3 separate regions of the Homo sapiens genome follow, and regions 2 and 3 are each linked to region 1. The links come from fine-mapping of genetic effects on gene expression. A gene starts in region 1. Each other region holds a variant in brackets. All regions are shown on one strand. Distances are between the middles of the regions. Region 1 holds the start of LAMTOR4 (late endosomal/lysosomal adaptor, MAPK and MTOR activator 4). Region 2 overlaps TSC22D4-C7ORF61 (TSC22D4-C7orf61 readthrough). Region 3 has its middle 20 kb from the start of PVRIG.

The links.
Region 2: its variant is fine-mapped to the expression of LAMTOR4 in whole blood (TOPMed, PIP above 0.99). The same link has a PIP of 0.9 or more in subcutaneous fat.
Region 3: its variant is fine-mapped to the expression of LAMTOR4 in lymphoblastoid cells (GEUVADIS, PIP 0.95).

Annotation. Positions count from the first base shown.
Region 1 is chr7:100,144,418-100,154,758 of GRCh38, reverse strand. LAMTOR4 (late endosomal/lysosomal adaptor, MAPK and MTOR activator 4) reads right to left here and starts at 5,841. Exons shown (of 4, transcript NM_001008395.4): 1 at 5,784-5,841; 2 at 5,180-5,260; 3 at 1,242-1,359; 4 at 556-892. The coding sequence starts at 5,786. The coding sequence ends at 795. TRAPPC14 (trafficking protein particle complex subunit 14) reads left to right here. Exons shown (of 11, transcript NM_018275.5): 11 at 1-336. RefSeq lists silencers at 5,272-5,361, 5,372-5,461 and enhancers at 5,001-5,613, 5,762-5,871, 6,142-6,201, 6,226-6,838.
Region 2 is chr7:100,452,429-100,462,769 of GRCh38, reverse strand. It overlaps TSC22D4-C7ORF61 (TSC22D4-C7orf61 readthrough), which reads left to right. Exons shown (of 6, transcript NM_001395846.1): 6 at 5,785-6,150. The coding sequence ends at 6,018. It overlaps SPACDR (sperm acrosome developmental regulator), which reads left to right. Exons shown (of 3, transcript NM_001004323.3): 3 at 5,785-6,150. The coding sequence ends at 6,018. Among named protein-coding and RNA genes, the nearest start is that of SPACDR, 6.7 kb to the left of the region's middle. RefSeq lists a silencer at 5,506-5,668. The variant G/A (reference allele first, on the strand shown) is at 6,216.
Region 3 is chr7:100,234,421-100,244,761 of GRCh38, reverse strand. It overlaps the pseudogene CASTOR3P. Among named protein-coding and RNA genes, the nearest start is that of PVRIG, 20 kb to the right of the region's middle. RefSeq lists an enhancer at 859-1,258. The variant TA/A (reference allele first, on the strand shown) is at 5,190.

The DNA of each region.
Region 1 (10,341 bases):
CAAGGGTTCCCAGAGCTCCCTTGTCCCCGGCCCTTTACCCTGGTTCTGAGTTTACAAAGTCTCTTCCTCATTCCCGTTGAGTTCTTTCCCACCTCTGACATTCCCTCCCTCCCTCCCGCAGGGCTGAGATTAGAGGGTGGTGATGGCTAAGGGCCCCTGACAGTGACCTTCCTGTCTCAGGGGTTGGGGACAGGGCCAGGTAGCCTCCTGCCCCTTATGTTTACGTTTGCAGCCTGAAGCACTTTAATTTTTTTTTTTTTGGTCTGTTCCTGTAACTTATTTTCCAACTATTGCTTCCAACTGAAATAAGACTATTAAATGCCTGTTCAGGAGGGAGAAGGATGACTAGTTTGTGTACTGATGGGAAGAGCAGAGGTCGCCAGGGCTCAGGGTGACTCCCTTCCCCTCCAGCTTTTTCTGCTTCCCAGTTTTATAGCACACAGAGGTGGCCCTGCCGCACCCAACTTGGGCTAAGGTGCATGACTTTCTCCCCAGAAGGTGGAAGACAGACATGGGGTGTAACCATTCCAACACTAAACACACATGTCCCTGGGCTGGAGAACATCAGACTCATGTTTATTAGGGAGTGAGGGAGCACAAAGGGAGGTCTCCTTGCCCTTGTTCTCCTTAACACAGCTCAGAGTCCCCAAGCCTGGGCCCGTCCAGGTAGGGGTGGGAGGTGGGCGAGCAGAAGGCCCTAGTTCTAGCAGCAAGCCAAGACCGACAGGTGTGCCTGCCTCATCACAGAGGCCCAGGACCCAATCCGCTTCTCCGACCCTCGCCCTCCGGCAGGCTCAGACATCAATGGGCTCCCGACCTCGGTTCTGCCTCTTCACCACAAACACCCTCTGTCCTGACACCGTCACCAGCAGTGTGTGTTCTCCAAAGACCACTGGAGGAGAGACACACCTTCCCCCGCCCCAGGAGAGGGAAGGGAGCACAGAGTTAGTGGGTGCAACAGACTCCATGGGGCGGGGCCACACGCACATTGGCTGGGATCAAAGCCAAAGAAGTTCTATAGTTCCAGGCTCAGAGATTTGAAGATGAGTGGCCTCTGCTAGATCTCCTTTCTCTTGCCTTCTCATTCACAATTCTGATACCAGGGAGTCCCAAAGGGAGGAAAGTGGCCAGACCAGAGACCCCAGGAGATGGTAGGAGGCTGGAAGAAGAGAAGCCGAGAAGCCCCTGGAAGTAGCCCCCCGCTCCCAGTACCACCACCAAGGGCAGGGGCAGGGGCTCACCAGACAGGCGCTTGAAGGGCACATTCATGCCGCGGTGCAGCCGGAAACCGCAGGCTGTGCTGACCAGCTCAGAGATGGCACTGGCTGCCTGCTCATCATTCTCCAGGTCCCCAGATGACTGCATGCAGACGGAGGAGGGAGAGGGGCGGGCATTACGGCACAGGCTCAGGAAGGAATTCCAGGCACAGTCCCCTTGGTTCTCACACTTAGACCCTCTCCCCCTTGGCTTGCCAGTACCCTCAGCTTTGGAAAAAAACAACCTGAAATCTCCCCCTATAATGTTGTCACCCTCCGGATGCCATCCTGTTTCCCATAATACTGGCCTTCCCCGGATGAGCAGTAACTTATCCATCTTTTTTTTTTTTTTCTTTTTTGAGACGGAATCTCGTTCTGTCACCCAGGCTGTAGTGCAGTGGTGCAATCTCGGCCTCTCGGGTTCAAGTGATTCTCCTGCCTCAGCCTCCCAAATAGCTGAGATTACAGGCACGTACCAGCACCACCACATCTAGCTAATTTTTTATATTTTTAGTAGAGACGGGGTTTTACCATATTAATCAGCTGGTCTCAAACTCTTGACCTCAAATGATCTGCCCGCCTCAGCCTCCCAAAATGCTGGGATTACAGACGTGAGCCACCGTGCCTGGCCATCCATCTCTTTATTGACCATGCTTTTCTAACCCCATAAAACTGGATTTCTCCCATGTCCCTGCCTATTTGATAAAGCCACATTCTCCAAAATGAATGCCTGCCCACCACTTACCTGTTAATGGCTCCATCTTTTTCTGTCTTCACACTTGCTGCCCTGTTTGCAGAATCTCAAACATAAACATTCCCTTTGTCCTTGAATACCTCCCTCTGTTGACCCCTAGAGTAAGTGATGGGACAGTGGCTTGGGCTTCCTCTTTTCTGGTGACTGTCTCAACTTCCTCTTCCCTCTTCCTTGATATGGGCCTCCACTAGATTTAGTTCCTTTTGCTGAACTAGCAATATATATTAACTGCTATTTTATATCAAACTCAATGTCTAAAGTTGGGCCATCAAATTTCACCTTATCCTTATCCACCTCCTTCCCAATCCACTTCTTTTTTTGATTTCCTGTTTGTTTGTTTGTTTTTTGAGACAGAGTCTCACTCTATCACCCAGGCTGGAGTACAGTGGTGCAATCTTGGCTCACTGCAACCTCTGCCTCCTGGGTTCAAGCAATTCTCCTGCCTCAACCTCCCAAGAAGCTGGGATTACATGCATGTGCTTCCATGCCAGGCTAATTTTTTGTAGAGATGAGGTTTCACCATGTTGGCTAGGGTGCTCTCGAACTCCCAACCTCAAGTGATCCACCCACCTCAGCCTCCCAAAGTGCTGGGATTAAAGGCGTGAGCCACCACGCAGGGACATGTTTCTTAAGGCATCATCACTCTTCCAGGCTTTAGAGTTCTGGCTACAGAAATATTTCCTCTATTACCTATTTCTAGTCATTAGCAAGATATACTGATTCCTCCTTTAAAATAACTTCTTCCAGCCAAGCACAGGAGCTCATGCCTGTAATCTCAGCACTCTGGGAGGCCAAGGCAGGAGGAATGCTGGAGGCCAGGAGTTTGAGACCAGCCTGGGCAACATAGCAAGGCCCCTGTCTCCACACATTTTTTTTTTTTTTTTAATGGCTGGGCGTGGTGGTGCTTGCCTGTAGTTCTAGTTACTTGGGATGCTGAGGCGGGAGGATTGCTTGGGCCCAGGAGTTCAAGGCTACAATGAGATGTGATCGTTACCACTGCACTCCAGCCTGAGTGACGGCGAGACTCTATCTTAAAAAAAAACAAACAAACAAAAAAACAGGACGGGGTGCTGTGGCTCACACCTGTAATCCCAGCACTTTGGGAGGCCGAGGTAGGCGGATCACGAGGTCAGGAGATCCAGACCATCCTGGCTAACATGGTGAAACCCCATCTCTACTAAAAATACAAAAAAGTAGCCGGGCATGGTGGCGGGCGCCTGTAGTCCCAGCTACTAGGGAGGCTGAGGCAGGAGAATGGCGTGAACCCGGGAGGCGGAGCTTGCAGTGAGGGGAGACTGCACCACTGCACTCCAGCCTGGGTGACAGAGTGAGACTCCGTCTCAAAAAAAACAAAAACAAAAACAAAAAAACAGGCCGGGTGCAGTGGCTTATGCCTGTAATCCCAGCACTTTGGGTGGGAGGCTGAGGCGGGCAAATCATGAGGTCAGGAGTTCGAGACCAGCCCGGCCAACATGGTGAAACCCTCTCTCTACTAAAAATACAAAAATTAGCTGGGCATGGTGGTGCACACCTGTAATCCTAGCTAATCAGGAGGCTGAGGCAGGAAAATCACTTGAACCCGGAAGACGGAGGTTGCAGTGAGCTGAGATCATGCCACTGCACTCCAGCCTGGGCCACAGAGCGAGACTCTGTCTCAAAAAACAAAAACAAAAAAAAACAAAAACAAAACTCTTCTCTCCTTGCTCCTCCTTCTTACCACCACTTGCCCAGTCTCATCTCTTTTTTTTTTTGTTTTTTTTGAGACGGAGTCTTGCTCTGTCGCCCAGGCTGGAGTACAGTGGTGTGATCTCGGCTAACTGCAACCTCCACCTTCCAGGTTCACGCCATTCTACTGCCTCAGCTTCCCGAGTAGCTGGGACTACAAGTGCCCGCCACCAGGCCTGGCTAATTTTGTTTTTGTATTTTTAGTACAGACGGGGTTTCACCGTGTTGGCCAGGATGGTCTCGATCTCCTGACCTCGTGATCCGCCCGCCTTGGCCTCCCAAAGTGCTAGAATTACAGGCATGAACCACCACGCCCAGCCCAGTCTCATCTCTTAATGACGCCTCCTTCTGCCCATCTTCACATCACTAACAACAATATTGCTCAACCACCTCACTGGGTCTTGTTTCTGTTTTAAAAAACCTTTCAAACTGTATTACCTTCAAGAATAAGTTCAAGTGTGTTAACCTGGCCTTGAAGATCCTTCACAATTACATCCTCCCTGACCATATCCTCCTCTCTTCCCTCAAACCTTCCCAAATCTTTTCAGCATAAACTTACCATCAGTTCAGATAGGTTAGTGCCACACACCTGCAAATAAGTCCTCCCCCACTGTAAATACTCTCCTTTAAGGTGGGCTGAATTCCTACCTCCCGGAAAGTTAGTTACCTTGTCATAACATGTTGAATTTTTAATATCCTGGATTCCCTCAATAGTCTTTACCACCTGTATTGTTTTCAACCCTTAACCTTAAGCTTTGTCTCTACCTAAGTCAAAAACATCTGGAGACTTAACACTATACAGTACTATGGAACAAAATACAAATGCCTCTTTAAGAAATACCAAATAAAGGCCAGACGTGGTGGCTCACGCCTGTAATCTAGAGACCTAACACCATACAGTACTATGGAACAAAATACAAATGCCTTTTTAAGAAATACCAAATAAAGGCCAGGCATGTTGGCTCACGCCTGTAATCCCAGCACTTTGGGAGGCTGAGGCAGGTGGATCACCTGAGGTCAGGAGTTTGAGACCAGCCTGGCTAACACGGTGAAACCCCGTTTCTACTAAAAATACAAAAAATTAGCAGAGCATGGTGGCACGTGCCTATAATCCCAGCTACTCGGGAGGCTGAGGCAGGAGAATCGCTTGAACCCCGGAGGCGGAGGTTGCAGTGAGCCGAGGTCGCACCACTGCACTCCAGCTTGGGCAACAAGAACGAAACTCAGTCTCAAAAACTATAAATAAATAAATCGCAGCCGTTAGGAGACTAAGATTCCACAGACTGATTACTGAAAGTAATTGCAAAAACTGCAAATACTTTTGTACCAACCTAATAGATGCCAGGCAGGAAACCAGATAAAAGCCGAGAAAAGAAGGGCCAATATTAGAAGGGGTTACCGGGCTGTGTGCACTAAGGGACCCCCTCCCTTTCCCAGAACGCACCGCCAGCACTGCACCTTCACTCAGTACCAGGTAGCCGAGCTGGTCTGGGATTCGCTCCAGCCCCTGGGTCAGCGCAGAAGTCTAGTGGGTAAAGATGCAAGTCGTGAGAAGCATGCTAGAGGGATGGACGGCCCGATACCCTTCACCTGCAAACCCAAGTCTCTGGGTTGACGATGGCCCCAGGTTTTCTCATTCCCCAGCCAGGTCCCTTCCCGGCCCCCTCCCCCCTACATGGTCCTCAATACTGATCTTCCCGAGCCTCCATCTGCCCCCACTCTCGCCCCCGGGCTCCCCTGGCCTTCCACATCCCACCTTTGCTACCCCAAGGGGCCTTTGCTGCCCCACTGGCCCCTGCCCCCAGACCCTCTCTTCACCTCCCTTCGTCTCCGCCCGACCTGCAGACTACCCGCAGCCCCAGAACACCCTCCCACAGACCCCTCCCCAGCATTCTCGTCGCCATCCCTCCCATTTCCATCCCCTCTTCCTCCCCGAGCGGATAGGAGGTGAGGGTGGAGCGCAGGCCCACCAGGGGGAAACCACACAGACTGGGGAGCAGAGACGCTGAACCCCCGGCGGGTCCTCTCGCGCATGCGTCCTCACTCACCATCGCAGTCTTCGGTGCTGGGGGAGCTCCCTACCAGATAGGTAGCTTCCGGCTTCAGGCCCCGGTCACGTGCTTGCAGCCGCTGCGCTCCTCCTTCTGCTTGCGCCACTGGCCTTTAGCCCCGCCTCTAGCATGAGGATTGGACAGTGGCCACGTCGTCAGACCCAACCAGCCAGTGCGAAGCGCTGTTTCCCGGAGGCGCACGTTGATTGGTGATATCCCCTCTTTAACACCCATCTCCCCGCCCCTCAGTGCCTGAGCGAGAGGAAGACGCGGGAGCGTCCGAGGAGGGGAGGATCTGGGAGGGGCGGGAGTAGGCCGGGGTTGACCGTTTGGTCCTGGGCGCACTGTCTGGAGCCAGAGTTCCGCCTGAGCCAGGATGCCCGCTGGTGTGACCCCCCCAAATGAATCCCTTCCCAGGTTTAAGACTGGACCCAAAAACTAGAGAATAAAAGGAAATAACGTGCAATGCATGTGAAAAACTATTCAAGGCTGGGCGCCGTGGCTCACGCCTGTAATCTCAGCGCTTTGCGAGGCCGAGGACGGATCATTTCAGGGCAAGAGTTCGAGACGAGCCTGAGCAACATAGCGAGACCCTCCCCAGTCCCCCCGCTCCAACCACCTCTACAAAAAAATAAGAAAATAAGCCGGGCATGGTGCCTCACGCCAGTAATTCCAGCTACTAGGGAGGCTGATGGAGGAGAATCTCTTGAGCTCAGCAGTTGCAGAGTGCAGTGAGCTATTATGGTGCCACTGCACTCCAGCCTGGGTGCCCTTCCTCTAAAAAAAAAAGAAAAGAAAAGGAAAAAAAAGGTACTCAAATGCTACTTTTTTTTTTTTTTGAGTCGGAGTCTCACTCGGTCGCCCAGGTTGCAGTGCAATGGCGCGATCTCTGGCTCAATACAACTTCCGCCTCCCGTGTTCAAGCAATTCTCCTGCCTCAGCCTCGCGAGTAGCTGGGATTACAGGCGCCCACCACCACGCCCGGCTATTTTTGTGTTTTTAGTAGAGATAGGGTTTCACCATATTGGCCAGGCTGGTCTCAAACTCCTGACCTCGTGATCCGCCCGCCTCGGCCTCCCAAAGTGCTGGGATTACAGGCTTGAGCCACCGCGTCCGGCCCTCAAATGCTACTTTTGTGCCTACTCAAGACAGCTCTTTGTTGAAGACAAGAATTTGTTCCCGAAGTGGTTTTTTTGTCCCCAGATTCAGTCCGGGACAATGTGGTGGTAAATAGAATCCCCAGCTAGCCAATGCAGCTGCAATACTGAATATTCATTCCCTACAGGAAAAAATTAGAAACAGTACCTTGGAATGATACACACACACACACACACACACACACACACACACATCACACAATATATGTAAACATTAGAAATTTTTGTTTTAAATAATTTCTAAACCTGTTGCCATATTAATGTGGTGGAGGCTGTGTTAGTGAAATAATATGAAGAATGATTCTAGAAGCCTGGGCAACATAGCAAGACCCCATCTCTAAAAATTTAAAAATTAACCAGGCATGATACTGCACATGTAGTCCCAGCTACCCGGGAGGCTGAGGTGGGAGAATCGCTTGAGCCCAGGAGGTTGAGGCTGCAGTGAGCCATGATCATGCTACTGCACTCAAGACTGGGTAAAAGAGCAAGATTGTCTCAAAAAGCAACAAAAAAATCTGAATATAATAACAATTGTTAAAGTCTGGGTGTCTTTTAAGACTTGTTAGAAACAGCAATTTCAAGGCTGGGCGTGGTAGCTCACACCTGTAATCCCAGCACTTTGGGAGACCAAGGCGGGTGGATCACCTGAAGTCAGGAGTTCGAGACCTGCCTGGCCAACATGGTGAAACCTCATCACTACTAAAAATACAAAACAAACAAACAAAAAAAAAAAAAACTAGGTGGGTGTGGTGGTGCATGCCTGTAATCCCAGCTACTGGGGAGGCTGAGGCAGGAGAATCCTTGAATCCAGGAGGCGAAGGTTGCAATGAGCTGAGATTGTGCCATTGCACTCCAACCTGGGCAACAAGAATGAAACTCCGTCTCAAAAGAAAAAAAAAAGATTTTGATGTAATAAATTATGGTGGCAGTATTCTTGATATTTAACCATCTTTGTGTTTCTGGAATAAAATCTGCTGGAACAAATTATACTACCCATTTGTTTTACTGCTTTATTTAGAATTTTTAAAATCTATTATGATAAATGAGATTGGGCTGTAGTTTCTTTTTGGTATATTCTTTATCTGCTTTTGGTAGAAAGAGCAGGTTGCCAGATAAAATGAATCAGAGAGTTTCCTATCTTTTTTATCTATGGTCTGCAAATCAAACTGGTTGGACCAACTCACACTCCTCTAGCAATGTGTCAGAGTTCCCAGTTATCTCCAGCTCCATTAACACATGGTATTGCCACACTTTTTGTTTTTTGTTTTTTTTTTGAGACAGTCTTGTTCTGTTGCCCAGGCTGGAGTGCAGTGGCGCAATCTCAGCTCACTGCAACCTCCACCTCCTGGTTCCCGGGTTCAAGCAATTCTTCTGCCTCAGCCTCCCGAGTAGCTGGGACTACAGGAGCGCACCACCACACCCAGCTAATTTTTGTATTTTTAGTAGAGATGGGTTTCACCATGTTGGCCAGGATAGTCTTGATCTCTTGACCTCGTGATCTGCCTGCATCAGCCTCCCAAAGTGTTGGGATTACAGGCCTGAGCCACCATGCCCAGCCAGTATTGCCACACTTTTAGGGTAAAGTTTTTGGATATGCGATGGCTTCTCATTGTAGTTTTTATTTGCATTTACCTAAATATTAATGAGGTTGATCACATTTTCAGACAGGTTTGGCTTTTGGGATATCATCTTTTGTGAAGTATCAGTTCAACTTTTTTTTTTTTTTGAGACAGAGTCTTGCTATGTTGCCCAGGCTGGAGTGCAATGGTGCGCTCTTGGCTCACTGCAACCTCCGCCTCCTGGATTCAAGCAATTCCCTTGCCTCAGCCTCCCAAGTAGCTGGGACTACAGGGGCACGTTGCCATCCCGGCTTTTTTTTTTGTATTTTTAGTAGAGACGGGGTTTCACCGTGTTGCCCAGGCTGGTCTTGAACTCCTGAGCTCAGAGCAATCCACCTGCCTCGGCCTCCCAAAGTGCTACGATTACAGGCATGAGCCACTGCAACTGGCTTATTTATTTATTTTTTTTTTGAGATAGTCTTCCTCTGTTGCCCAGGCTAGAGAGCGGTGGTGCGATCTCGGCCCACTGCAACCTCCACCTCCCAGGTTCAAGCAATCCTCCTGCCTCAGCCTCCCGAGTAGCTGGGATTACAGGCACGCACCACCAGGCACGACTAATTTTTTTGGGTTTTTAGTAGAAAGGGGGTTTCACCATGTTGACCATGTTGGCCAGGCTGGTCTCAAACTCCTGACCTTAAGTGATCTACCCACCTCGGCCTCCCAAAGTGCTGGGATTACAGGCATGAGCCACCATGCCGGCCCAGTTCAACTCTTTTCTCATTTTTCTATTGAGTTTGTCTCTCTCTTTTTTTTTTTTTTTTTTTCCCGCCCAGGCTGGCTAGAGTGCAGTGGCGTGATCTCAGCTCACTGCAAACTCCTCCTCCCGGGTTCACATCATTCTCCTGCCTCAGCCTCCCGAGTAGTTGGGACTACAGGCGTCTGCCACCACGCCCGGCTAATTTTTTAGCTCAGGAGTTTGAGACCAGCCTGGCCAACGTGGCCTGTTGTGGGAAGTCAGGGACCCCAAACGGAGGGATTGGCTGAAGCCATGGCAGAAGAACGTGGATTGTGAAGATTTCATGGACATTTATTAGTTCCCCAAATTAATACTTTTATAATTTCTTACGCCTGTCTTTACTGCAATCTCTGAATGTAAATTGTGAAGATTTCATGGACGCTTATCACTTCCCCAATCAATACCCTTGTGATTTCCTATGCCTGTCTTTAATCTCTTAATCCCGTCATTTTGGTAAGCTGAGGAGGATGTATGTCACCTCAGGACCCTGTGATGATTGTGTTAACACAAATTGTTTGTAGAGGATGTGTGTTTGAACAATATGAAATCTGGGCACCTTGAAAAAAGAACAGGATAACAGCAATGTTCAGGGAACAAGAGAGATAACCTTAAACTCTGACTGCCGGTGAGCCGGGTGGAACAGTGCCATATTTCTCTTCTTTCAAAAGCAAATGGGAGAAATATTGCTGAATTCTTTTTCTCAGCAAGGAGCATCCCTGAGAAAGAGAGTGTGTCCCTGAGGGTAGGCCTCTGAAATGGCCGCTTTGTGGGGCGGCCGTCTTTCATGGTCGAAGCTGTAGGGATGAAATAAGCCCCAGTCTCCCGTAGCGCTCCCAGGCTTATTAGGACGAAGAAATTCCCGCCTAATAAATTTTGGTCAGACCAGTTGTCTGCTCAAACCTGTCTCCTGATAAGATGTTATCAATGACAATGCGTGCCCGAAACTTCATTAGCAATTTTAATTTGTCCCGTCTTGTGGTCCTGTGATCTCGCCCTGCCTCCATTTACCTTGTGATATCTTATTACCTTGTGAAGCATGTGAT
Region 2 (10,341 bases), 310 kb before region 1:
AGGCTGAGGCAGGAGGATCACTTGAGGCCAGGAGTTCAAGGCCAGCCTGGGCAACAAAGTGAGACCCCATTTCTACAAAAAAGTTAAAAATTAGCCAGGCTTAGTGGTGCCTGTATTTCCAGCTACTTGGGAGGCTGAGGCAGGAGGAACACATGAGCCCAGGAGTTCAAGGCTGTAATGAGCTATGATTGTGCCACTGCACTCCAGCCTGGGCAATAGAGCGAGACTCTGTCTCTTAAAAATATATATATATTTCTGGCCGGGCACGGTGGCTTACGCCTGTAATCCCAGCACTTTGGGAGGCCGAGGCAGGCTGATCACGAGGTCAGGAGATTGAGACCATACTGGCTAACATGGTGAAACCCCGTCTCTACTAAAAATACAAAAAATTAGCCAGGCAAGGTGGCAGGTGGCTGTAGTCCCAGCTACTCAGGAGGCTGAGGCAGGAGAATGGCATGAACCCGGGAGGCGGAGCTTGCAGTGAGCCGAGATAGCACCACTGCACTCCAGCCTGGGCGACAGAGCGAGACTCCATCTCAAAAAAAATAAATAATAAAAATAAAAAATATTTCCTATGCGTCCACCAAATGCCATGTACTAAAGATACAACAATGAACAAGACTTGCAGACTTGCAGGGCTACAGATGAGACAATAGGCATTGCTAGTTCAGTATCCACACATTGTTGAGTGTGACGTTGTCAAGCGGGCTGTAGGACCCCAGGAGAGAGGCATGTTATCCAAACCTAAGGAGTCAGGTGAGGCCTTTTTTTTTTTTTTTTTTTGAGACGGAGTCTGTCGCCCAGGTTGGAGTGCAGTGGCGGGATCTCGGTTCGCTGCAAGCTCCGCCTCCTGGGTTCACACCGTTCTCCTGCCTCAGCCTCCTGAGTAGCTCGGACTACAGGCACCCGCCACCACGCCCAGCTAAATTTTTTTTTGTATTTTTAGTAGAGGCAGGGTTTCACTGTGTTAACCAGGATGGTCTTGATCTCCTGACCTCGTGATCTGTCCGCCTCGGCCTCCCAAAGTGCTGGGATTACAGGTGTGAGCCACTGCGCCCGGCCAGGCAAGGCCTTCTTAACAGAAGTGAGGGTAAAGCTGAGGCCTGAAGGTGTTAGCTTGGCTTGAAAGGGTTGTTAGGGGAAGGTGGAGGGAGTGGGAGGGGTGTCCAGGGAGTAAGAATGGCAAATGTGTGGCCAGGCACAGTGGATCATGCCTGTAATCCCAACACTTTGGGAGGCCAAGGCAGGAGGATCATTTGAGCTCAGGAGTTCGAGACCAGCCTGGGCAACATGGTGAAACCCTCTCTCTACAAAAAATACAAAAATAAGCCAGGAATCGGTGGCTCACAGCTGTAGTCCCAGCTATTCGGGAGGCTGAAGTGGGAAGTCTGCTGGAGTCTGGGAAGCGGAGGCTGCAGTGAGCCGAGATCGTGCCACTGAGGCAGGTGGATCACCTGAAGTTAGGACCAGCCTGGCCGACATGGTGAAACCCTGTCTCTACTAAAAACAAAAACAAAAATCAGTGGGGTGTGGTGGTGCACCGCTGTAATCCCAGATACTTGGGAGGCTGAGGCAGGAGAATCGCTTGATCCTGGGAAGCAGTGGTTGCAATGACCCGAGATTCTGCCACTGCACTCCAGCCTGGGCAATACAGTGAGAGTCTGTCTCAAACAAACAGAAAAGAATAGCAGATGAGTGCAGAGCTGTCCCAAGGTGTGTGGGTTGGAGTGGAACGATCCTGAAGCCTAAAGTCAGCTGGTAGAAGGCAGGGTTGCCAAGTTGTGAGCTTTGGATTGGACCCTTAGAGCAATGGGAGCCCTTGAAGACATTTGAGCAGAGGAGTGACATGATCAAATGTTGATTTTGAAAGCTCACCTGCACTCATATTTGGGTAGGATTGTAAGCTTGTTCAGCCCAGCCTGGGCAACACAGGGAGACCCCATCTCTACAAAAGTAAAAAAATTAGCCAGGCATGATGCATGCCTGTAGTCCCAGCTACTTGGGAGGCTAAGGTGAGAGGACCACTGGGAGGTCAAGGCCACAGTGAGCTATATTTGTGCCACTGCACTCCAACCTGGGTGGCAGTGAGACACTCTCAAAAAAAAAAAAGGAAAATAGATAGCACAGCAACTCTGGAAAACAGGATGGTCATTTCTCTCTCTCTCTCTCTTTTTTTTTTTATGATGGAGTCTCACTCTCTCACATAGGCTGGAGTGCAGTGGCATGATCTTGTTCACTGCAACCTCTGCCTGCCAGGTTCAAGCAATTATCCTGCCTCAGCCTCCCAAGTAGCTGGGATTACAGGCACTCACCACCATGTCTGACTAACTTTTGTATTTTTAGTAGAGACAGAGTTTCACCATATTGGACCATGCTAGTCTCGAACTCTTGACTTCAGGCGATCCTCCCACCTCAGACTCCCAAAGTACTGGGATTACAGGCGTGAGCCACAGCGCCTGGCCAAGAGTGGTTATTTCTTATAAAACTAACCACGCAGTTATCATATGACCCAACAGTTGTACTCTTGGGCATTTATCCCAGATAAATAAAATCTTATGTTCACACAAAAATCTAAATGTGAGGCCAGGCGCAGTGGCTCACGCCTGTAATCCTAACACTTTGGGAGGCCGAGGCAGGTGGATCACAAGGTCAGGAGATCAAGACCATCCTGGCTAACACAGTGAAACCCCGTCTGTACTAAAAATACAAAAAATTAGTCGGGCGTGGTGGCGGGTGCCTGTAGTCCCAGCTACTTGGGAGGCTGAGGCAGGAGAATGGCGTGAACCTGGGAGGCGGAGCTTGCAGTGAGCTGAAATAGCGCCACTGTACTCCAGCCTGGGTGACAGAGCGAGACTCCATCTAAAAAAAAAAAAAAATCTAAATGTGGATGTTCACAGCAGCTTGATTTGTAATAGCCAAAATCAACCCATGTCCTTCAGTGGGTGAATGGTTAAACTGTGATACCTTCAAACCCCAGAATACTACTCAGCAATAAGAAGGGACAAACTGGCCAGGAGCAGCGACACACCTGTGATCCTAGCACTTTGAAACACCAGGCAGAAGCATCGCTCGAGCCCAGGGTTTCGAGGCCAGCCTAGACAACATAGTGAGACCCCGTATCTGCAAACAAACAAAACAAACACACAAATAAATAAAATTCTAAAAAGACGGAAAGGACAGGGCCGGGCGTGGTGGCTCATGCCTGTAATCCCAGCACTTTGGGAGGCCAAGGCAGGCATATCACCTGAGATCAGGAGTTCGAGACCAGCCCGGCCAACATGGTGAAACCCTGTATCTACTAAAAATACAAAAAAATTATCTGGGCATGGTGGTGGGCTACTCGGGAGGCTGAGGCAGGAGAATCGCTTGAACCTGGGAGGCGGAGGTTGCAGTGAGCTGAGATCATGCCACTGCACTCCAGCCTGGGCAACAAAAGTGAAACTCTGCCTGAAAAAATAAAGGCCGGGCACGGTGGCTCACACCTGTAATCCCAGCACTTTGGGAGGCCGAGGCAGGCGGATCTCGAGGTCAGGAGATCAAGACCATCCTGACTAACAGGATGAAAGCCCGTCTCTACTAAAAAAAAAAATACAAAAAAATTAGCCAGGCGTGGTGGCAGGCGCCTGTAGTACCAGCTACTCGGGAGGCTGAGGCAGGAGAATGGCGTGAACCCGGGAGGCGGAGCTTGCAGTGAGCCAAGATTGTGCCACTGCACTCCAGCCTGGGTGACAGAGGGAGACTTCGTCTCAAAAAAAAAAAAAAAAAAAAGGTAAAAAGGACAAACTATTGATACACACAGTAACGTGGGTGTGAATCTTGAGGGAAATTTTTTGTTTTGTTTTGAGACGGAGTTTCACTCTCATTGCCCAGGCTGGAATGAAGTGGTGCGACCTCGGCTCACTGCAACCTCCGCCTCCCAGCTTCAAGCTATTCTCCTGCCTCAGCCTCCCGATTAGATGGGACCACAGGTGCCCACCACCACACCCAGCTAATTTTTTGTATTTTTAGTAGAGATGGGGTTTCACCATGTTAGCCAGGCTGGTCTGGAACTCCTGACTTCAGGTGATCCACCCACCTTGGCCTCCCAAAGTGCTGGGATTATAGGCATGAGCCACTGGGCCCGGCCTCAAGGAAATTATACTGAGTGGAAACAACCAATCCTAAAAGGTTATATTCTGAATGATTCCGTTTATATTATCTACCACTCTTGAAATAACAAAAGTCTAGAAATGGCAAACATATTAGTGGCTCAGTGGTTTCCAGGGGCCACAGAGATAGGGGGAGAAGAGTGTAGTTATTAAAGGACAACATGAGGGACACTTGTGATGATGCAAATGTTCTGTATCTTTTTTTGTTTTGTTTTTGTTTTTTGCTTTCTCCTGTCTGATGGAAATGTTCTGTAGCTTTCTGTTTTGTTTTGTTTTTATGTTTTTGTTTTTTGTTTCTCCTGCCCGATGGAAATGTTCTGTACCTTGACTGTGGTAGTTGGATACATGAACCTGCATACTGGATAAAACTTGGTAAAATTATACACACACACACACACACACACACACACACACACACACACACACCAGTGAGTACAAGTACAACTGGGGAAATCTACATAAGATCAGTAGATTGGATCAATGTCAATATCCTGACTATGATATAATAGTATAGATTTGCAAGATTTTCCTATGAGGTGAACTCAGTAAAGGGTGCACAGGATCTCTATGATTTCTTCCAATTGCAGGTCAGTCAGTCTACAATGATCTCAAAACAAAACAAAACAAAAAAACAGTTTAAGCCGAGCGTGGCGACTCACGCCTGTAATCTCAGCATTTGGGAGGCTGAGGCAGGTGGATCACTTGAGCTCAGGAGTTCAAGACCAGCCTGGGCAAAACCCCATTTCTACAAAAAAAAAAAAAAATATATATATATATATACACACACACACACACACACACACACACACACACACACATATATATATATAAAAGTTAGCCGGGCATGGTGGTGCACGACTGTAGTCCCAGCTACTCAGGAGGCTGAGGTGGGAGCATCACTTGAACTTGGGAGGTGGAGGTTGCAGTGAGCTGAGATTATGCCACTGCACTCCAGCCTGGGTGACAGAGTGAGACCTTGTCTCAAAAAAAAAAAAAAAAAAAAGGCCAGGCATGGTGGCTCACGCCTGTAATCCCAGCACTTTGGGAGGCCGAGGCCGGCTGATCACTTGAGGTCAGGAGTTCGAGACCAGCCTGGCCAACATGGTGAAACCCCTTCTCTACTAAAACTACAAAAATTAGCTGGGCGTGATAGCGAGCACCTGTAATCCCAGCTACTCAGGAGCCTGAGGCAGAAGAATCGCTTAAACCCAGGAGGTGGAGGATGCAGTGAGCTGAGATCATGCCACTGTACTCCAGCCTGGGTGATAGAGCAAGACTCCATCTCAAAACAACAAAAAAAAGAAGAATAGAACTGATGGGCCAGGTGTGATGCCTCACGCCTGTAATCCCCAACACTTTGGGAAGCCAAGGCAGGAAGATCTCTTGAGCCCAGGAGTTCGAGACCAGCCTGGGCAACATAGCAAGACCCCGTCTCATTAAAAAAAAAAAAAAGGATAGAAATGACAAACATTTGATGCAACCTGAGAAGGCTTTCTGGAGGAGGTGATGTATGAGTTGGGCTGATGGGAGAGGTGGAATCAGGGAGCCCTTTGCTGTTTATCTATGGGTCGTTCTAGCGGCAGTTTCTCCCTAGACCCAGCTATTTACGCATGCACATCTTCTCTTTCTCTTACAGTCATCAGTGAGTTCTGCCTCAGTCAGCTCCCAAGTGAGGACGCAGTCACCTTTGAAGACTCCGGAGGCTGAGTTGCTGTGGGAGGTGTACCTGGTGCTGTGGGCCGTTCGGAAACACCTGCGCCGGCTGTACCGCAGGCAGGAGAGGCACAGACGGCACCACGTCCGATGCCATGCTGCCCCCCGACCCAACCCGGCTCAGTCCCTGAAACTGGATGCCCAAAGTCCCCTCTAGGGGGAACCCCAGACCCTTAGAGAGTCCTGACCTCACTCTTACCTGGGGTCCCATATCAGCCCCTTCATTCCATGTATTCCAGTTGTAAAACAAGTATCAAAATATTGGGAAATAAATATCAGATAGTTCTGAGTCAGTATGGAGTGTGTTTGTGGACGGCGGGAGGGGATGAGAGGAGTTTGGGTGGGTCAGGGAGA[G/A]ACCCCTAAGGTGAGGGCCTAAATCCCAGTAGGGGTCACCTGTGGGTCTATTTGGGGGGAAGCATGGTCAGCACGTTTCTGCTCTGGGTCCCACCCCCTTCTTGGGGCCAAAATGCCTGTTTGTAACTCCACCTTTCCTTATAAGGACGGTAACAGCTGCCATTCACCAAGGACCCAGTCCCGTCAGCTGCTGTCCTTAGCGATCCTACAAGAAAGGTATTTAGGGTGGATTACGGGACTTGTCCAAGGCTCAGCAAAGGAGGCCTTGCTGGAAACTGCCAGCTCCCAGGGGTAGCCCACTACCCTGCCTCTCTGGTGCTGAAGGGCTTTGCCATGGGCTTGGCTGTGGAGAGTTGTGCGTCTGCAGACGCACATGGGGGCTGTGGGAGATGCATCCACGTGCTGTGAAGGAACTCCAGCCCCGCTGCCTGCTGCCCGCGCCTCACCAAGAGCTGAAACTACACCTCCAGGGGGCTCTACAGGGACCATGCTCACGGCAGGGCCGGGTGAAGGCTGCAGCCTAGGAGCTGGGTGAGGGATTTGGCCTGGCACCGTGGGAATAAGGACCTAGAGGGAGGCTGTGGCAATTTGGAAGGAGGTTGGAGGGCAACGGAGACAACAAGAAGGGAGACCCAGCAGCCTCAGGTCCCCTCTCGGAGTAGCCAAGCCACATGAAGGTGCAGAGGTGGCTCTCCAGGAAAAAGCAGGGTTGTTTCACAAAAGCAACAGCAAGGCCGGGCACGGTGACTCATGCCTATAATCCCAGCACCTTGGGAGACTGAGGCGGGAGGATTGCTTGAGCTCAGGAGTTTGAGACCAGCCTGGGCAACATAACAAGACCTTATCTCTTAAAACATCTTTTTCACATGGTGAAACCCCGTTTCTACTAAAAATACAAAAAATTAGCTGGGTGTGGTGGCATGTGTCTATAATCCCAGCTACTTGGGAGGCTGAGACAGAATAATTTGAACCCGGGAGGCAGAGGTTGCAATGAGGTGAGATTGCACCAGTGCACTCCAGCCTGGGCAACAGAGTGAGACTCTATCTCAGAAAAAAAAAAAAAAAGAAAGAGAAAAGAAAGGTCATGTAGCTTTCATTCTGCACATGTTACACAGCAGGTGTTCAACACATGAGTTAAGTGACTTCACTGGGAATCAGTCCTGAGTGAAGCCTAAAGTCAAAGCCTGCTTTCAGGTTTTCAGGCGGGGCCTCAAAACAGACTAATAAAGAGCAGCTCATGTCTGGAGTTTTCAATCACCAATTATTCATCACGTCTCTATTATCTGCCAGGAACCCTTCTGGGGGTGAATGGTGTTGGTGCAGGATCTGAGTCCCAGGAAGCCCTGAGATTTAATGGGTCCTGAGGTTTGGAGTAGTACCTAGCTGTCTAACATCCGGGATCAGCCCCTCCGAGTCTTTAGAGATGAGCTCCTCATCGCTGGGGACCTGAGGTTTCAGTGAGAGGAGGGGAGGGGAGAGTAGGACGAAGCTGGGCCTCTGAGGGTCACTGGTAAAATAGCCTTGCAAGTAGCTACAGGCCCAGGAGCTCATCCAGGCTTGACGCTGTGGGCTTGTGGAAAGGAATACTGCTCTCGTTTGTCTTTGGCTTCTTCAGCTCTTGGGAGTGGAAGGGAAATTAAGGAAGGTGGGTTCAGCCAGCAACCAAGGCACATCCCATCACTCTCTCCTTCCCCAGATCTGGAGCCCTGTCTAGGCTTGGCTGAGCAGGCACAGGCAGACTTGTGGGAGAGGAAGGAAAGGGGTGGGCAGAAGGAAGCTGCCTCTTGATGACAGTTTTTTTGTGTGTTTTTTTGAGATGGAGTCTCACTCTATCGCCAAGGCTGGAGTGCAGTGGTGTGATCTCGGCTCATTGCAACCTCCGCCCGTGGGGTTCAAGTGGTTCTCCTGCCTCAGCCTCTGGAGTAGCTGGGATTACAGGTGCTTGCCACCACACCCATGTAACCGTTTTTGTTTTTTGGTTTTTTTTTTTTTTTTTTTGAGACAGAGTCTCACTCTGTCACCCAGGCTGTAGTGCAGTGGCATGATCTCCGCTGACGGCAAGCTCCGCCTCCCGGGTTCACACCATTCTCCTGCCTCAGCCTCCTGAGTAGCTGGGATTACAGGTACATGCCACCACGCCCGGCTAATTTTTTTTCGTATTTTTAGTAGAGAACGGGGTTTCACCATGTTAGCCAGGATCGTCTTGATCTCCTGACCTCGTGATCCGCCTGCCTTGGCCTCCCAAAGTGCTGGGATTACAGGCATGAGCCACCGCGCCTGGCCACACCCGGCTAACTTTTGTATTTTTAGTAGAGACAGGGTCTCACCATGTTGTCCAGGCTGGTCTTGCACTCCTGACCTCAGATGATCCACCTGTCTCAGCTCCCCGAAGTGCTAGGATTACAGGCGTGAGCCACTGCACCCGGCCAGTGGTTTTTGTTTTTTAGAGACAGGGTCTGGCTCTGTTGCCCAGGCTGGAGGGCAGTGGCGCAATCATGGCTCACTGCAGCCTCCAACTCCTGGACTCAAGCGATCCTCCCACCACAGCCTCCCGAATAGCTGAAACTACAGGTGTATGCCACCATGCCCAGCTAATTCTTTTTTAATATTTGTGGCGATGGGTTCTAGCTATGTTGCCCAGTCTGGTCTCAAACTCCTGGCCTCAAGCAATCCTCCTACCTCGGCCTCCCAAAGTGCTGGGATTACAGGTGTGAACCACTGCACCCAGCTAGGAATGTCATTTTGGAAGTGATAAAGAATACCATGTGCAGGAAGTAGTAGGAGGAGCCCTTGATGCGGAGTCAAGAGACCTTGGTCCTAGTCTCAATATTGCTACTACTTTGCTGTACGACTCTTATTTTTATTTTTTATTTATTTTTGAGACAGAGTCTCGCTCAGTTGGCCAGACAGGAGGACAGTGGCACAATCATAGCTCACTATAGCCTCCATCTCCTGGTCAATCCTCCTGCTTCTGCCTCCCAAAGGGCTGGGATCGCAGGCACTTGGTGATTTTTGAGAGTCACTTTCCTTCACTGAGACTCAAGCTCCTTAAATAAAATGATGACTTGATGGCTGGGCACAGTGGCTCACACCTGTAATCCCAGCACTTTGGGAGGCTGAGGTGGGTGGATCACCTGACGTCAGGAGTTCGAGACCAGCCTGGCTAACATGACGAAACCCTCTACTAAAAATACAAAAATTGGCTGGGCATGGTGGCTCACGCCTGTAATCCCAGCACTTTGGGAGGCCGAGGTGGGAGGATCACGAGGTCAGGAGATCGAGACCATCCTGGCTAACACGGTGAAACCCCGTCTCTACTAAAAATACAAAAAATTAGCTGGGCGTGGTAGCCGGCACCTGTAGCCCTAGCTACTTGGAAGGCTGAGGCAGGAGAATGGTGTCAACCTGGGAGGCGGAGCTTGCAGTGAGCTGAGATCTTGCCACTGCACTCTGGTCTGGGTGACAGAGTGAGACTCCATCTCAAAAAAAGAAAAAAAAATTAGCTGGGCATGGTGGCGCGCACCTGTCATCCCAGCTACTCGGGAGGCTGAGACAGGAGAATTGCTTGAACCTGGGAGGCAGAGGTTGCAGTGAGCTGAGATCACGCCACTGAACTCCAGCCTGGGCGATAGAATCAGACTCTGTCTTCAAAAAATAAAAATAAAAATAACAAACTTCCTCAGGCTTCAGGGAGTGTTGAGTTAACCTGCAGAAACAAGGTAAGTTCCTGGGAGGTGCTAACTAGCAGTTGCCGGAGACAGAACCAGCCCAGCCTTTGGGCTCACAAAGACCAGGTTCAAATTCTGCCTTTCCTGGCTGTGTGACCTTCAGCAAGTGAATTAACCTGTCTGAATCTCTGTCTCAAAAGCAAGGCTCTGTCTCAAGAAAAAAAAAAAAGGAAAATAAATGAAATAGTTATTAGAGTGTGGTCCTGGACCAGAGCATCGCATTCCCCAGAGAGTAGTAGAAATTCAAACTCCAGGCCCTGCACCGCAGACCTACTGAATCAAAAACCCTAGGATGGGGGCCAGCAATCTGTTTGAACACGCCTGCTGAAGTTTGGGAATCACTGCCACACTGCATGGGAATGTAGACTGTTGGGATTCTGAAGCTTAGGACATATCAC
Region 3 (10,341 bases), 90 kb before region 1:
CTAATTTTTTTTTGTATTTTTAGTAGAGACGGGGTTTTACCATGTTGGCCAGGTTGGTCTCAAACTCCTGACCTCAGGTGAACCATCCCCTCGGCCTCCCAAAGTGCTGGGATTACAGGCATGAGCCACCGCGCCCGGCCGCCTGGTGCTTTTTTAATTTTATTTTTTATTTTTTGAGACAAGGTCTTACGCTGTCACCTAGGCCGAAGTGCAGTGGTGCAATCACAGCTCATCACTGCAGCCTCGACCTCCTGGGCTTGAGCAATCCTCCTTCCTCAGCCTCCTGAGTAGCTGGGACTACAGGTGCATGCTACCAGGCCCTGTTAATATTTTTTTTTAGATTTTTTTTTTGGTAGAGGCAGGGTCTCACTGTGTTGCCCAGGCTGGTCACCTGGTGATTTTATCTACAAAGGGACATTGATTCCCCACCCTGGTTCCTGAAGGCAGACAGTATGTACCCCTCTTGGAAGTTTGGGGAACAGGCTCAGGAGCTGTGTAAATATGCCCAAGACCACAGGATCGAACAGCCAACTCCAAAGCATTGCCTTTTTTTTTTTTTGAGACAGAGTCTCACTAGTCCGGAGTGCAGTGGTGTGATCTACACTGCAGCCTCGAACTCCCAGGTTCAAGCGATTCTCGTGCTTCAGTCCCCCAGGTAGCTAGGATTACAGGCATGTGCCACTACGCCAGGCTAATTTTTGTATTTTTAGTAGAGATGGGTTTTCACCATGTTGGCCAGGCTGGCCTCGAACTCCTGACCTCAAGTGATCTGCTTGCCTTGGCCTCCCCAAAGTGCTGGGATTACAGGCATGAACCACTGTGCCTGGCCAGGTGTTTTTGTTTTTTTTTTAAATCATAAGTAGTTGTAACTCTGTAAAAAGTGTACCCTGCCATACACAATGTCTGGGGACTTGTTTTTCAACCCACAGTGCTGTGACATTGCTGATACTTGTTTATCTCTTTGCTTAACACTGTGGATGGTTCATGTTGCCTGCTGGGTAATATTCTGCCATTCTTCATGTCCTCTCCTGCTGATGGGCATCTGGGCTGTGGCCAGGTTTTTGTTACTGAGAACAGGCTGTCACGGATCCTCTTGTCTGTGTCTCCCGTTACGTATCTGTAAAGGGTGCATGTCTCAGAATGGAAACGCTGAGTCATGGGGCGTATGCTACAAGTCCCCCCTGCCTTCAGGAAGTCCCCAACCCGTACAGGCAGCTCAGCCCCGGCTCGGCAGACCCCAGGCAGCTAACTCCTTTAACCCAACTAAGCTTCGGTTTTCCCGTCTGTGAAATGGGAATCATTCTACAGCACATTCATTAAGGTCACACTGATTACAGACCTCGTACCAAGCCCTGTGCTGGGCATGGCGGCCCTGGAGGAGGAGATGCAGCCTTGTCTCTTGCTCGCAAAGACAGAAATGGGGCGGGGCACGGTGGCTCACACCTGTAATCCCAGCACTTTGGGAGGCTGAGGTGGGTGGATCACCTGAGGTCAGGAGTTGGAGACCAGCCTGGCCAACATGGCGAAACCCCATCTCTACTAAAAATGCAAAAATTAGCGGGGCATGGTGGCACACACCTGTAATCCCGGCTACTCGGGGAGCTGAGGCAGGAGAATCACTTGAACATGGGAGGCAGAAGTTGCAGTGAGCCGAGATCGCACCACTGCACTCCAGCCTGGGCAACAGAGTGAGACTCCATCTCAAAAAAAAAAAAAAAAAAAAAAGGCAGACAGACATGGAAGTGATTAATCTCAGTACTATAATGGATATCGCCATGGCTGGGGAGGTGATAGGCTGGTAGGGGTGAAAGGAAGTTGGACTGGGGACCGTGAGAATTGGGGAGATCCAAAATCAGTGATCATTTTGCACCAAGACCTGACAAGCAGAAGGTATACTCTTGTCTACAAGGACTGAGATCTCCTTGGGGGGAGCCTGGGTTCCTGGGGCTTTCCCCAGATCTTTGTGATTTCTTCTGCCCTATCCATCCCCTTTGGTAGCCCTGCCTCTCCATAATCACCCTGGAATTTGCCAAACACCATCACCCACGCTGTCTGATTGGATTCAGCCTGGTCGCCCGTGACACAAGCACATTTTATTTTCTATCTTTTTTTTTCTTTTTTTGAGATGGAGTCTCACTCTGTCGCCCAGGCTGGAGTGCAGTGGCGCGATCTCAGCTCACTGCAAGCTCCACCTCCCGTGCTCACGCCATTCTCCTGCCTCAGCCTCCCGAGTAGCTGGGACTACAGGCACCCGCCACCGCGCCCAGCTAATTTTTTGTATTTTTTTTTTCAGTAGAGACACGGTTTCACCGTGTTAGCCAGGGTGGTCTCGATCTCCTGACCTCGTGATCCACTCACCTCGGCCTCCCCAAGGGCTGGGATTACAAGCATGAGCCACCGCACCCGGCCTTATTTTCTATCTTAAGGCAAAATAACTCCTGTTCAGGATCGCCCTTCCAGTTGCAGAACCAATTAAGGGCTTTTTTCTAAGTAAAACTTGAAAGGGCAGCTTCTAGTTGCTAAAGACAGGAGAAATGAAATGTAAATAACACGAGAGACCCATTGAAAACCCAGGAGAAACAGATGAAAAAGCTGCAGCTGGTTAGCAGAACAAAGCCGGGCATTCACCCTCCCCCCGATTTTCCTCTGGGAAGAAAAGCTCCATGAACTGTGGCCCCGAAACACTTCTATCACTCACTGCCTTTTTTTTTTTTTTTTTTTTTTTGAGATGGAATCTTGCTCTGTCTCCAAGCTGGAGTGCAGTGGCTGGCGTGATCTTGGCTCACTGCAACCCCTGCCTCCCAGATTCAAGTGATTCTCCCGCCCCAGCCTCCTGAGTAGCTGGGCACTCAGCCTCCTGAGTAGCAGGCGCACACCACCATGCCCAGCTAATTTTTGTATTTTTAGTAGAGACGGGGTTTCACCTTGTTGTCCCGGATGGTCTTGATCTCTTGACCTTGTGATCCGCCTGCCTTGGCCTTCCAAAGTGCTGGGATTACAGGCATGAGCCACCGCGCCCGGCCGCTCACTGCGTGTTTTAAAAGGCCCCTGTCAGCCGGGTGCACTGGCTTACACCTGTAATCCCAGTACTTTGGGAGGCCGAGGCTTGGGAGGATCGCTTGAGGTCAGGAATTTGAGACCAGCCTGGGCAACATAGCAAGACCCCGTCTCCACAAACATTTAAAAATTAGCCAGCCATGGTGATGTGCATCTATAGTCCCAGCTACTCAGGAGGCTGAGGTGGGAGGACCACTTGAGCCCAGGAGTTGGAGGCTGCAGTGAACTATGATCATGCCAGTGCACTCCAGCCTGGGTGACAGAGCAAGACACTGTCTCTAAAGGAATGAATGAATGAATGAATGCTACTGTTAGCCACATCAGAAAAACATCAGCAGGGAGGCAGCCAGAAGTTGGCTGGCAGGGGCAGGGGTGGGCAGTCTCCGGAAGCAGGTGAGGCCCTGATCCCTTCATTCCCTCACTTGGATAGGCTGCAGGAGATGTGGCCAAACCTCCCTCATTCCAGACAGAATGGGCCACACTTTGAAAGAAACACCCCTGTCCTTCCAGGCTGGTGCTGTAATCCCAAGTGGGCTGAGAAAGGACCTGCTTTAAGTAAGGCCCGAGAATGTTTTGTAAACAGGGCCTATAACATCCAAGACGCCTGTCTTGGGGCCTGTTTGCAGAGCCTCTCTTTTTTGGGTGGGTGGGTCACTTGAGCAGTGAAGGCTCTGGGCTTGTTTCAAAACCCCGCTGGCCAGGCTCTTTTTTGTTTGTTTTTGAGATGGAGTCTCGCTCTGTTACCCAGTCTGCAGTGCAGTGGCATGATCTCGGCTCACTGCAATCTCCACCTCCCCGGTTCAAGCAATTCTGCGTCAGCCTCCCGAGTAGCTGGGACTACAGGTGCGCGCCACCACGCCTGGCTAATTTTTTGTATTTTTAGTAGAGGTAGAGATGGGGTTTCACCATGTTGGCCAGACTGGTCTCGAACTCCTGACCTCAGGTGAGCCACCTGCCTCTGCCTCCCAAAGTGCTGGGATTACAGGCATGAGCCACTGCACCCAGCAGGCCAGGCTATTAATTCCAAAGGTCCTGGCTTGTTCCCAGGCAAGCTAGCAGGTGACCTTGGCAGAGTCTGGCTGACACAGAGTATGGTGACCCTGCAGGAATCAAGCCTGCATCTTTTATTTTATTTTTTAAGACAGGATCTCACTGTGTCACCCAGGCTGGAGTGCAGTGGTGCAATCATGGCTCACTGCAGCCTCCGCCTCCCAGGCCCAAGTGATCCTCCCACCTCCACCTCCTGAGTAGCTGAGACTACAGGGGCACACCACCATGCTCAGGTAATTTTTAAATTTTTTTGTAGAGATGGAGTCTTACCATGTTGCCCAGGCTGGTCTCAAACTCCTAGGCTCAAGTGATCCCCCTGCCTTGGCCTCCAGAAGTGCTGAGATTACAGATGTGAGCCACCGCGCCCGGCCTCCCGCCTGGAGTTTTTTAACAGCACTTAGCACCCATACTGGGTACTTTCTGGCATTTGCTCCTCTTTCCAGCTCTTTGTAGGCAGAGTACAGAGAGGCCACAAACCCCGGGGGCCTGGCATCTGGGGTGTGCACCTGGCCATGACTCATTAGAAAAGGCGGAGAGAGAATTAGAACTGGAGACCTTAGCTTCTCCAAGAGGAGGGTTAAGTCAAGATGATGCCACATGAGGGCAGACAGGGTTTTTTCTCATTGAGGCTTCTTTGATTTTGAAGGCAAGTGTGTGGCCACAGGCCATCCTTTCGCTCAGCAATCCTTGAGTGTTGATTCCATGTCCAGCCAGTGTCAGATACAAGGTGTGTGTACGGAGGACCCTCTGTCCTTGCTTCTGAGCGCTGTGGTCTACTGAGGGAAGTAGACCCTTAAAGTATGATTTGTAATAGATTGTGGGAAGCACTCGGCACTGTCACATGCAGTTGCATGGGTTGTGCGCTGCACAACTCTAAGGGCATAATTCACATAGACTGTGAGATGAATTGTATCCTAGGGCTGTGATGCACCACCAGCCCAGTTGTCCACAGTGGCCTGAAAGTCATCTCATAGACATAGTGTGGGGCTGTAGGCTGTCAAAGGAGGACAACCTCTATGATGGGAGATGAGGGAAAGGAAGTGGCTGGTGTTGATCAGGCAGGGTTTTTGTTTTTTTTTTTT[TA/A]ATTTTTAGTAGAGGCAGGGTTTCACCATGTTGGCCAGACTGGTCTTGAACTCCCAACCTCAAGAGATCCATTCACCTCCACCTCCCAAAGTTCTGGGATTACAGGTATGAGCCACCATTTCTGGCCAGGAAAGGTTTTACCCCAGAGGAGATGTTTGAACTGGGTCTTAAAGGATGAACATGAAATCTTCAGCCAACAAAGTTGGGAGGCTATGCTGGGTAGATGAAAGAACATTTAGGCTGGGCGAGGTGGGTCATGCCTGTAATCCCAGCACTTTGGGAGGCTGAGGCGGGTGGATCTTCTGAGGTCAGGAGTTTGAGACCAGCCTGGCCAACATGGTGAAACCCTGTCTCTACTAAAAACTCCAAAAAATTAGCTGGATGTGGTGGCGGGCGCCTGTAATCCCAGCTACCTGGGAGGCTGAGGCTGGAGAATCGCTTGAACCCCAGAGGCAGAGGTTGCAGTGAGCCAAGATGTGGCACCACTGCACTCCAGCCTGGGCAACAAGCGTGAAACTTCATCTCAAATAAAAAAGAAAGAACATTCGTCACTGTTGGAGGCATGAGACTGTGGAGGCAGGTGCGTTGAGGCCAGGAGTGGAAGAGGGAGACAAGACAGAAGGGTAGTCCAGTCTTGAGTTTGCTTTGTGGGGAGTGGTGGAGAGGCAAAAACGGATCTCAGAGTGACCTTCGAGTAAAGAAGACATGGGGCTGTGTGGAGTGGCTCACACCCATAATCCCAGCACTTTGGGAGGTGGAGGTGGGAGGATCACTTGAGGCCAGGAGTTCAAGACCCACCTGGGCAACATAGCAAGATCCCATCTCTATAAAAATTTAAAAAATTAGCTGGGTGTGGTGGTGTGCACCTGTAATCCCGGGTACTTGGGAGGCTAAGGATGGCCCGCAAGGGGGTGCTGTGCTTGGACTGGGGAATGGCCAACTGCCCAGCAATAGGGAGATGACTTCGAGAAGCAAAGATAGGAAGGTTAAGCTTGATAAGACAAGAAATGCAGCAGATGTAATCCAAAGGCAAAGGGGGGACCTGTAGCTTGAATTAAGAAGTGGTGTGGGCTGGGCGCAGTGACTCACTCCTATAATCCCAGCACTTTGGGAGGCCAAGGCAGAAGGATCACTTGAGCTCAGAAGTGCAAGACCAGTCGGGACAACGTAGTGAGACCCTGTCTCTACAAAAAATAAAAAATTAGCCGGCTGGGCATGGGTAATGCACGCCTGTAGTCCAAGCTAGTTGGGAGGCTGAGCTAGGAGGATTGCTTGAGCCCAGGAGGTCAAGGCCACAGTGAGCCAAGATCATGCCACTGCACTCCAGCCTGGGCAACAGAGCAAGAGCCTGTCTCAAAAAAGAAAAAAAAAAAAAAAGGCCGGGTGCGGTGGCTCATGCCTGTAATCCCAGCACTTTGGGAGGCGGAGCCGGGTGGATCATGAGGTCAGGAGTTTATGACCACCCTGGCTAACACGATGAAACCCTGTCTCTACTAAAAATACAAAAAATTAGTCGGGCGTGGTGGTGGGCGCCTGTAGTCTCAGCTACTCTGGAGGCTGAGGCAGGAGAATGGCGTGAACCCAGGAGGCGGAGCTTGCAGTGAGCCGAGATTGCGCCACTGCACTCCAGCCTGGGTGACAGAGCGAGACTCCATCTCAAAAAAAAAAAAAAAAAAAAAAAAACAACAACAAGGAGGTCAAGGAGAGGGAGGAGTCTGGGGGCCGACTCCTGAGGGTAGTGACCAGAGCGACGGCAGCAGGTGCCTCCGGCTGATCTGCCCTCCCCGAAGCCCACCCGTGCCGAGGTGCACATTCTGAGATGTCCCCTAGCTGGCAGAGCCACAGAATTGCTCAGCCCCTGGGGACAGGTCACTTCAACAACATATTTATACTCCGTTTACACACAGGCCGCTGTTGCCTTCTGCTGGTGTTTATGCCTTCCGGAATAATTTGTGCGGTCTATTTCTGGAGTGTCCCTCAGAGCCGAGGGCGCCGGGAGCAAGGGCCGCGTCTGTTTGCCTCCCCGGGGCTCTCGGGCAGCTGGGCAGCCCCACCCCACCCAGGGAGTACCAGCTCATGGCAGTCTGGTGACTGTGGGAGTCCAGGGCTCTTTCTGAGTTCATGGGGGTCCCTAGGAAGGGTCCAGGCCTGACCAGTGATTGCCACTTACTGTGGTGATAATTTGCTGTTGTTCTCAAAGCAATTATAGATTTCACGTATCCAGGCAATACTTGCAAATTGGATATGGGACAGGCAGGGACAGAGACGTAATTAGAAAACTGAAGAGCCGGAGGGAAATTGATGAGCGTGGGTGGTTGTTCCAGCAGAATGCGTTACGCCCCTCCCAGGGGGAGAGAGGCCACCTCATGGATGACCCTAGCACAGGATTTTTTTTTTTTTTTTTCCCCGAGATGGAGTGGCTCTGTTGCCTAGGCTCTAGTGCAGTGGCACGATCTCAGCTCACAGCAACCTCCCAGGTTCAAATAATTCTCCTGCCTCAGCCTTCCAAGTGGCTGGGATTACAGACGCCCACCACCACGCCGGGCTAATTTTTATATTTTTAGTAGAAATGGGGTTTTGCCATGTTGGCCAGGCTGGTCTCAAACTCTTGACCTCGAGTGATCCGCCCACCTCAGCCTCCCAAAATGCTGGGATTACAGGCGTGAGCCACCGCAGCAGACCAAGCATTTTCTTTACATTCAAGTTTATCAAGGTATGATTTACATACAGCGTAATTCACAAATTCACCCCTTTTTAGCAGATAGTTCTTTGGGTTTTGACAAATTTATATGATCTTGTGAGGTTTTTTTGAGATGGAGTCTGAATCTAATCACCCAGGCTGGAGTGTAGTGGCGTGATCTTGGCTAATTGCAACCTCCGCCTCCTGGGTTCAAGCGAGTCTTCTGCCTCTGCCTCCCCAGTAGTTGGGATTACAGGTGCCCACTGCCACGCCTGGCTAATTTTTGCATTTTTTTGTAGAGACAGGGTTTCACCATGTTGGCCAAGTGGTCTCAAACTCCTGACCTCAGGTGATCCTCCCACCTCTGCCTCTCAAAGTGCTGGGATTACAGGCGTGAGTCACCGTGCCCGGCCTAAATTTATGTGAATTTATATGATCTTGTAACCACCGCCACACTCAAGAGGCCCATCCCCCCAGAATTTCCCAGTGCCCCTCTCTAGTCAGTGTCTACCCGTCCCCTGATAACTGCTAATCATTTGTCCCTATAGTTTGGCCTCTTCCAGAATGTTGTATGAATAGAAACATACAGTATAGAATCTTTTGAGCTTGGCTGTTTAACTTAGCAAAATGCACTTTAGATCTACCCGTGTTAATGCATGAATCGGTAGTTTATTCCTTTTAATTGCTGACCCGTATTTCCTCATGTGGATGTGCCTTAGTTTATCCTCTTTCCAGTTGAAGGAAGGACATTTGGGTTGTTTCCAATTTAGAGCAAATACAAACAGGCAATATGTATTCGCATCTAAGTCTTTGTGCGGGCACCTGTTTTCACTTCTCGTGGATGAATACCCAGGAGCAGGATAGCTGAGGCTGGGTGGTCAATGTGTGCTGAACTTTATAAGAAATTGCCAGCTGGGTGCAGTGGCTCACGCCTGTAATCCCAGCACTTTGGAAAGCCAAAGAGGGAGGATCGCTTAAGGACAAGAGTTCAAGACCAGCCTAGACAACATAGCAAGACCTCATCTCTACAAAAACAACTTTAAAAACTAGCTGGACTGTCTGGGCACGGTGGCTCACGCCTATAATCCCAGCACTTTGGGATGCTGAGACGGGTGGATCACCTGAAGTCAGGAGTTCGAGACCAGCCTGGCCAACATGGAGAAACCTTGTCTTCACTAAAAATACAAAAATTAGCCAGATGTGGTGGCGGGCGCCTGTAAGCCCAGCTACTGGGGAAGCTGAGGCAGGAGAATCACTTGAACCTGGGAGGTGGAGGTTGCAGTGAGCTGAGATGCCACTGCACTCTAGCCTGGGTGACAGGGTGAGAGACTCTGTCTCAAAAAAAAAAAAAAAAATTTAGCTGGACATGGTATTGTGTGCCTGTAGTTCCAGCTACTCAGGAGACTGAGGCAGGGGAATTGCTTGAGCCCAGGCATTCAAGGCCTCCATGAGCTGTGATTGCATCACTGCACGCCAGACTGGGTGACAGAGCAAGACCCTATCTCTAAAAAGAAGAAAGAAACTGCCAAATGAATGTTTGAAGGGCTGGGCCATTTTGTACTCCCACCAGCAGCATAAGAGAGTTCCAGTGGCTCCATATCCTTGTGAAAATTTTCAGGAATAAGTTTTAAAAAGGAGCTGGAGAGGTTCTGTAGATGAGGGGGCTGCAGGGCAGGTGGCAGGAGAGGAGGCCAGGGAGGAGGGCGACCCATGGATACACCAGCCACCCCCATCCCCTGCAACACTGTCCACTCAAAGATCCCTTTTCCATTTGCATATTTGAGAGAGTGATACTTGCCCTTTGCCTGGTGATATGGTTTGGCTGTGTGCCCACCCAAATCTCACCTTGAATTGTAATAATCCCCACGTGTCAAGGGTGGGGGCAGGTGGAGATAATTGAATCATGGGGGTGGTCTCCCTCATACTGTTCTCGTGGCAGTGAATAAGTCTCAGGAGATCTGATGGTTTTATAAAGGTAGTTCCCCTGCACATGCTCTCTTGCCTGTTGCCATGTAAGACGTGCCTTGGCTCCTTCTTTGCCTTCTGTCATGATTGTGAGCACCCCCGCCCCCGCAACCCTGCCAACCACCAACCAGCCACGTGGAACTATGAGTCCATTAAACCTTTTCCCTTTATAAATTACCCAGTCTCGGGTATGTGTTTATTAGCAGCATGAGAACAGACAAATACACCTGGGTTACTTGTGGGCTTCTTTCTGTCCTGGCTCCCCTCAATGGGTGGGGATGCAGAGCCCATGCCTGGCTTTGTGCTTGAGAGCCGGAACACCAGATAAGCGGCCAGGGGTCAGTTTCCTGCAAGCCTCTGCCTGTGCACGCTTGGACTTGCCATCTCTGCTTGCAATACTCTCTAGGGTGCAGTGGGGGTGCGGTTCTGGCTAAATGGGGAACAGGGACACGGGGGTTGAGGGGGTGATGACCCCCATCACCCAAGGACCAAAAGCCTTGAAGCCC